Homo sapiens: one gene and its partner. The protein of the gene in region 1 interacts with the protein of each later gene in a biochemical or structural test. Each region holds a gene or a part of one and is shown in the gene's direction. Other genes may lie near its edges. The genes, in order: RAB27B and SYTL4.

Region 1 (4,125 bases):
ATGGAGTGGCCAAGCAACATTTCTCTTATGTCTTCCTACTCTTTCTCTTCCTTGGAACCCCTCTTCCCAGGGAAGGAAATGTTCCACCACTCTCTGGTAGTGTCACTATGTAACACTACTGAATCTGAGCCTTGGAACCTCGGAGACAGGACCATATGTGGCAAGTCACTCCAGGAGAGCTATCCCTGCAAGAGTTGGCCCTATAAAGCAGGTGACACACTTATCTAGGGAAAGGTGGCAAGGAGAGTCATCAATAAATGTGTGTGTCAGATTTTCTTATGGCAGGAACCTTTTCTAGAAGTTGCAGTGAGGTAGTACAACACAGTGACCACTGTGAGCTCGGCATTCAGGATCAATAGACCTGTCTTCCACCTTTTGAACTTCATCACTTTGGACAGATTTACTGCGACTTTCTCAACCTCAGTTACCTCATTCTGAAAATGGAGACAATAAATATAATAGACGCCTTGCCTATTTCACAGTAATGTTGTGAAAGCCAAATGAGATGAAACTCTATTGCATACAGGAAATAATAGCTATTAGGACTAATGTCAGTAGTGAACACATGAACTAGATAAAGAATATGGGTTATCATTGTATAGCACAGAGGGTGATTTTAAGTCAATGTGTTAACAGTGGAAAAGATTCAAGGCTCTTATGTTCTTTCTTTTATTTCTGTCTGGGCCCATGGACACACACTTCTTATATACTTAGATATTGCTGTTAAATGCAAAGTAGATTTATCATAAATATAGATTCCAAGCATACATACTTTGAAAATCTACAGGCTGAGCCTCAAAGACTTTTATGCAGTAGATCCAAAATAATTTTTAGGAACTGGATCTTACTTGGGGAGAATGGAATAGATTGTTACCAAAATTATAAGTATAGCCAACACATTCATAGAACTTACTGTGCCAGGCACGTTCTACACACATTACTGATATGAAGTCAATTCTTCACAATAACACTATGAAGACATTATTATTACTCTTCTTTTCAACTTTCAAGAACATTGAAGGACATAAAATAGAACTTCTTTAATAGTTTCATAATAGAATAGACAGATTTCTATGAGACCAAAATGTTTTCTCTAATATTCCATTTTTCCACTAGTTTGCTATTGTTTGTTTTGTGTTTTGGTTTGGGCTATTCCTTTGCTCCCTTCTACAAGAAATTCTCTGGGAGCTGATAACAGCAGTGCCTCCCAGATTGTCTCTAGGGCATCGAATAAGAAACAAGTTAAGTAATTAAAATTCAAGCAGTCATTGGCATCTCGTTGTTTACTAACATGAATGCAAGACACAGGTTTGGAACTTTTAAATTTTGTTCACAGAGGAGTAAATCGGTTGTTATTATAATGTACCTAACCTTGTATTCTTACCTTTACTACCAGTCTGTAAATTAGGGATGTCTGAATGTGTCTAAAATGGAATCCCAAGATGGGCAGCCAGGATCTTTGCTTTGTGGACGAATCTAATGTGTTTAGAACACGGCATAGCACATAGTAGGTGCTTAACAAATACTGGTTCAATGCCTCCGTGTGCTCATTATCTTACTTAGTGGTAACCTATTGATCTCTGAAGTGACTTTAGGAAGTGAATTAGGGCTTTGGGAAGTGAATTTGGATGTTGCATACTGATTAATGCATTCATACGAACACATCCTAACTTTTAAAATATTAATTTCTTTCCAACGCCCTCTTTTATTTCCCGAGGCCATCCTCTGCTCCCCACTCGCAATCCCTCGCCTTCACTCCTCATAGTTAATGAGACACCCCCTCGGAGGAGAGAACGCAATGTCAGGGCCCCAGTTCTCACAGCGCCCTGGGCTCTTTGAATGAGAGACATCAAAGAAAACACAGAACAAAAATGAATAAAAATGAGCTCGCTGGTAAGGCTAGAAGCCCCACAGTGTGGAGACTTCATCCCCGAGAGGAGTGTGTTTCTCACTGCAGCAGTTGAGTCACCAGCAAGACTTGCCTGAGGTGAGCTCCGCACATCCGCGTTGGGACTTGCAGACACGCCTTCTTCTCACACAAACCTTACCCAGCCCCGCCGCCGCGGCGGACTCCGAGGGTGGTGCCACCAGCCCTGCCACTCGCAGTCCTGACGGGCAGGGGCTGCGGACCGCCCGGCCTTGGACCCATCCGGAGCCACAGGTTGGAGGAGATAAGTAGCTGTCCCCGTGCTCATCGCCCTGTGGAGCAGATCCTGTCTCCTTGCTGACGGTGGAGCCCGGGAGTTCCAGGGCTTGGGAAGGGGAAGGAAACCTCTCTGAAATCTGACACCTGCTCTCCCGGCAAGGAAACTTCGCAGGCTGGTGAGTTGGGAAGGCGGGCTGCTGCTGCTGGAACGCGTTCCCACCCACCCGGGTGCTGCAGCGCCGGCCTGCGCCGTGGGAAGTGAGGCCTCTGTGTGTGTGTGTGTGCATGTGTGAGTGCGTGTGCACCTTCGATCGCGGTTTCCAGCAGAAATCCTTGCAAAGAAGACAGTAGTGCTGTGTGCTGCACGGATGGCATGGGCCAACTCGACCTGGCTCTCCTTGAGTGTTTGCTTATCAAACAGCTGGTTACCACCAAAAAAAGCAAAAAGAAAAACAAAAAGCCTAGGCACAGCAATGCCAATTTCCTTTCATTTGCATCTCAAAAAACAATCAAAATAATGAATAAGAAAAAGCATGGATGATGATGTGCTCAGAGTTTCATTCCAGGAGGAGCGACTTAGTGAGGCAAGCCAGGAGAGCAATAAGACATTTATATGCACTTCCTTAGATGAAATAGCCACAGAGACCTTAAGAGTACTTTCTGTTTTCCAATTTTTTGCTCTGTTACTTTCGAATTCTGATCTAAGTGTTGCACCAACTAGGGTATATGTGTGCATGTGTGTTCACCCAACTGATCACAATAAATTAGCTTTCAAGACTTTCCCACCCAATGCAACATTAATTAAGCCTCTGAAAACTACTGAAGTAGGTGAACTGTAAGCAGAGACTGCATTCCTAGGAAAAAGCTGTGTTTGGTTAGAGCCTTCACACCTGTATCATGTTTTGTGAGTTTTTTATGTCAAGATGTAAAGCTAAGGGTATGTAATTCCAGTTGTTTTAAACTGCACATCATTAAATTAAGCCCAAAGTAATAACATAAATTTCAAGGTTATTAACAACAAAATTATTGTTTAATATAATACAGCTCTGAATTTTGATTTTGTTCTGTTTATAAGAAAAATGTCTACAGTTCTCAATATTTAGTTATATTCACACATATTCATTCATATATAGAATATACAGGGTTTTATGGTTATAAATTTTGAAAAGTTGAGGGAAAGGATAGACTTAAGCATTAATATAAACTCAGATATTTAAGTTTAATGAATTTTCAAGCTGCTGTAAAGTCCATATTGCAGTGATGAAGAGAGAGACATACCTGTCATGTGCCATTGCCCCTCAAATAGTTATTTTTCATAGTTTCCTAGCATAATCCTCTACCCAGATGGGGTCAGCCATCCTTGAAGGCAAGAGGTGATTCCTACCAATGACCAAAAAGGGGTAATCTTGACAGATAGTTTAATATTAATGGAGCTTTTCTGTTTCAGAATTGACTATGGCCTCTCATACAGTGTTACTGTCATTGCTTTCGAAAGGAAAACAAAACATAGCAGATAAAACTGGATGAGCCTGTTCTCATAGTTGCCAAGAAGGGATAAAGGGAATCTGTTGAATGTAAGCAAACCACAGTTCCCCTTTCTCATAGGTCATTTCTGGAACAGGCATGTTTGACCCAATAGGGAAGGTAACCCTAATATAATTGATCTTCTTGGTAGAAGATCAGTTGGTATGCCAGTTTACACTACAACTGTATGTTGGTTTCAGAATTGCTGTTCATTTATTTCACTGTTTTTCTGGAAAAATGGAAGTTATCCAAATGTCCAGGTAGTTCAGAATAGAAACCTGCTCTTTTCCCACCCTCACTCCTGCAAATTTTTGGTTAGGTTTTTGGGCTCTCAGATCAGTACGGCATGAAATATAGAACAATTACTCATATAAAACTCATCTCACAATCCAGTTTCTTCAGTTGATTCATCAAGGCAGGTTGACCAATAGTTCAGCTCTTAAGCAAGTAATTGT
Region 2 (3,600 bases), on another chromosome or scaffold:
TTTGTATTTTTAGTAGAGACGGGGTTTCACCGTGTTAGCCAGGATGGTTTCGATCTTCTGACCTCGTGATCTGCCCGCCTCGGCCTCCCAAAGTGCTAGGATTACAGGCGTGAGCCACTGTGCCTGGCCTCTGGGTTCAACTTCTAATTCTAGTTCTCTTGCTATTTCTACCACATGTGTAGTGACTTCCTCCACTGAAGTCTTGAACCCTTCAAAGTCATCCATGAGGGTTGGAATCAACTTCTTCCAAACTCCTGTTAATGTTGATATTTTGCCCTTCTCCGTTGAATCATGAATGTTCTTAATGGCATCTAGAATGGTGAATCCATTGCCTTGAGTGGCATGTTGTCATTTACTGATATAAGAAATACTGGAGGAGGAACAAATTTAAGAGAAAAGATGGTAGGTTTAACTTTGGATGTGTTGAATTTGAGGTGTCTGCAGGACATTCAAGTGGAGATGTCAAGAACACAGAACTCAATAAAGCAGTCTGGGTAGAGTTATAGAATTAGAGTTGTGACCATATATATGGTAATTAAAGCCAAGTGAGTGAAAAAGATTATTTGGGGGAGGGAGTATATGTATCCTAGCCCTGAGAATGTCTGACTTTCAGAGGTCAGATAGCAGAAGAGTGGCCTACAAAGGTCACTGAGGAGAGGGCAAAGGAGTAGGAGGAAAAGCAAAAGAGTAAAATGTCATAGATGCCATAGAAAGTTTCAAGGACGAGGAAATGGTTAACGGTGTTAAATGTAGGGGAGAAGTCAAGCAAAATAAGGACCAAAAATACCTTACTTATTTATGGATTTATTGACACTGAGGGTCATTGTTTGTGTATCTCATTGAGAAGTTTCAGTGGGGGAAGGAAGCCAGACTGCTGAGAGCTAAGAAATGAATGAGAAGTAAGGGAATAAAAATTGCAATTTCACCTGTGAAGTACATTTTCAATACATTTGCCCATAAAGAGGACCTGAAGAGGGACCTCCTGTGTAGGGAGGTTCTTTTTTTAAGATGGTAGATACTTGAGCATGTTTAATTGCTGATGTGAAATGAGGGGGAGAGGGATGGGAGAGGCAGGGAGAGGAATCTGCAATTACTGGGTAGGTATAAACATTTTCAAGTCTATTGATACATATTGCTCACGTGCTTTCTAAAAGGGTTTTTAACCAACATATGCTGCTATCAGCAATTAAGACAGCTTGTTTGGTGGCTACTTTGTCATCATTAAGTGTTATTAAAAAATAAAAAATATCTTTGCCAAAGAATCTCATTATTGTTCTAATTTGCTTTTCTTTGATTACTAGTGAGTTGGATATTTTAACCAGTTGTGTCCTTGAGTGTGTATGTATGAATTTAGTCTACGCTTTTGCCCAAAACGTTTCTATTTTAGACAGACATTTATTTGCCATAAAAGGCCACAAGTCAAAGGATCAGAATGGTATTATATTTTATTTACTCAAATTAGATAGTTCATACTCTTTTATCTTCTTAGAAGTGTGAGACAATTTGACAACTTTTGACTCAGCTGAACGAAAGAGACAGGTGATTTCACCGTCTAAGAGAGTGACCAACAGATGGAAGTAAGTGGGTGAGGAGGCACGTCTAGTGTTAGACCCCTATCCTCAGTCCCCAGGCTCCCATTCCTAACCTGGAAGGACATTCCTCTTGTGTCTCAAGGCTTTGGGTCCCAGAGCTCCCTTTTGGGCTGAGTGGCCCCCTGCTAAGGAGCCCGGGGCGCTGTGCGGCCCCTTTAAGAGTCCAGCTCCTCCCCGCTCCAGGGAAAGTTGCAGCTTTTTCCGCCTCCCGGGAGGGTGAGAAGGGCCGGCTGCCGGAGCTGGGTTGCGATCTTCCCGGAGCCGGAGACCCTCCCTTGAAACCGGCACTGGGACTTCTCGATCTCTGGAGGCACCTGTTGCAAGTGACAGGTAGGTCAACAGCCAGCGGCCGGCCCCTCGCCCTCGGTCCGGTGCTCCTTCTGGACCCCCAGCTCCTTTTCGCTGCTGAAGCGCCCCCACCCCCATCTCGGGGTCGTGCGTCTTCCCTACCCGCTCTCTGGTCCCCCAATTTTTCCTTCTCCCTAGCTGACCGCGTCTCCCCTCTCCCCGTCCGCCTCTCCCGACCGCATCCCCAGGCTTGGACTCCCGTCTGCTTGGGCGGTCCCTCCCGGCCACTTTTCTTTCTCCAGGGCTTCTTCTGGCCCCTTCCCTGACCCACCCAGCACTAATGCGGTCTGTGCCCCTCTGGGAGCCGCCTCCCCTCTCCTCTTCGGCTCCCCTCGCGGGGAGTGCCCGGGCTTTTTCCCGCCAGCCCGAGCTGGTGCCCCTCCCGAGAGCTGGCCCTGGGGGCGGGGGCGGGGCCGAGCTCCTAGCGGGAACTGCGCCCTCCAAGGCGTCCAGTCACCTTTTCGTGGGTTCCTCTCACAGCGCTCGGCCGTCGAGCGGGGTCGCTAACCCGCACTCTCTTCGGACCTACGACATCGCGGCTTCTCTGGCGTTGGCCAGTCAGCCACAGGTAAAGGCTGGAGGCTGGTTGGCTGGAGTCCTGCCTCAGTGGGCTCCCTCTGCGCTTGGGGCTGGGGACCTGGCTGTGTGCTGTGGAGCTGCTTTATATTGCCGCTCTTCAAGCAGGCTGTGAGAGATCTGGTACTGGAGGAGGGTCCCCGAGATCTCAGAAGGGGCACAGAATGCTTCTGTCTCCTGTGTTGGTTTGTAATGGGGCAGAAAAAGGTGTTCCTCCAACCCTTAACATTGAATGAGGTGGGATTTGGGGTGGTGAAATCATTTGGTTAGAATTCTGGTGGCTTGAAAAGTGGTGACTTTCTAATCAAGCTTTTCTTCCCCCAGTACCCTGCTTCTTCAGGATTAGAGGACGTAAAATTCCAGAGTACTGTGCTTGGCAGGGTTGACCCTAGACCTTGTATATTTGTGGCAAAAATGAGTCTTCTGTACATCCTGGACCTCCTATATTTAACTGGCTTATTTTCTGCTCTTTAAGCTCCCCACCCCCACCTCTCATAAATCTATTAATATTGAGGTATTAATGACTTAAGACTTTTGTCGCTGTGGGAACAATGTTTAATGCAGAGACGTGGCCTTGATGAAGTTTTCTGCGTTTTTGGTTGTTTGGTTTTTAGCACCCTAGTAGAAAAGCACCACCAACTTGGCTTGTGAGGCCCTTTTTGGGCAGAGGATGAACATTTCTGGTAACACAATTTCAGGTGTCTCACTCTTGGTCAGAGCAGTGAAATGGAGCTGGAGGCCTGTTCTGGGGTAATTGATCTGTGAGTATATGTAGCATTCTGGCTCTCTGAGCTTGTTAGGCTCTGGTTGTTAGGCTCCATTGAGCTGGACACTGTGATAAGTTCTTTACATAAAAATGCAATCCTCACAATAACTCTATACAGTAGGTGCTACAGTTATAACCATATTATGATGAAAAAGAGACTGAGAAGTTAAGTGCCTTGCCCTCAAAATCTCGGAGGCAGAGCTTGTGTTCCTATCCTGTCACACCACCTCTGTTGTCTTAGATGTTGGGAACACTGAATAGCTCATGGATGAGGACTAAGTGATTAAAAAATTGTCTTCCAAGCCCAAGTATATGTTT

Evidence for each region.
Region 2: the proteins of RAB27B (region 1) and SYTL4 form a complex in vitro, tested with the Homo sapiens proteins (one study listed by BioGRID).

Annotation. Positions count from the first base shown.
Region 1 is NC_000018.10:54,826,379-54,830,503, forward strand, and holds the start of RAB27B (ras-related protein Rab-27B), read left to right. Parts: upstream 1-2,098; 5' UTR 2,099-2,322; intron 2,323-4,125. UniProt on the Homo sapiens protein: Small GTPase which cycles between active GTP-bound and inactive GDP-bound states. In its active state, binds to a variety of effector proteins to regulate homeostasis of late endocytic pathway, including endosomal positioning, maturation and secretion.
Region 2 is NC_000023.11:100,730,326-100,733,925, reverse strand, and holds the start of SYTL4 (synaptotagmin-like protein 4), read left to right. Parts: upstream 1-1,804; 5' UTR 1,805-1,922; intron 1,923-2,391; exon of another isoform or gene 2,392-2,420; 5' UTR 2,421-2,508; intron 2,509-3,600. UniProt on the Homo sapiens protein: Modulates exocytosis of dense-core granules and secretion of hormones in the pancreas and the pituitary. Interacts with vesicles containing negatively charged phospholipids in a Ca(2+)-independent manner.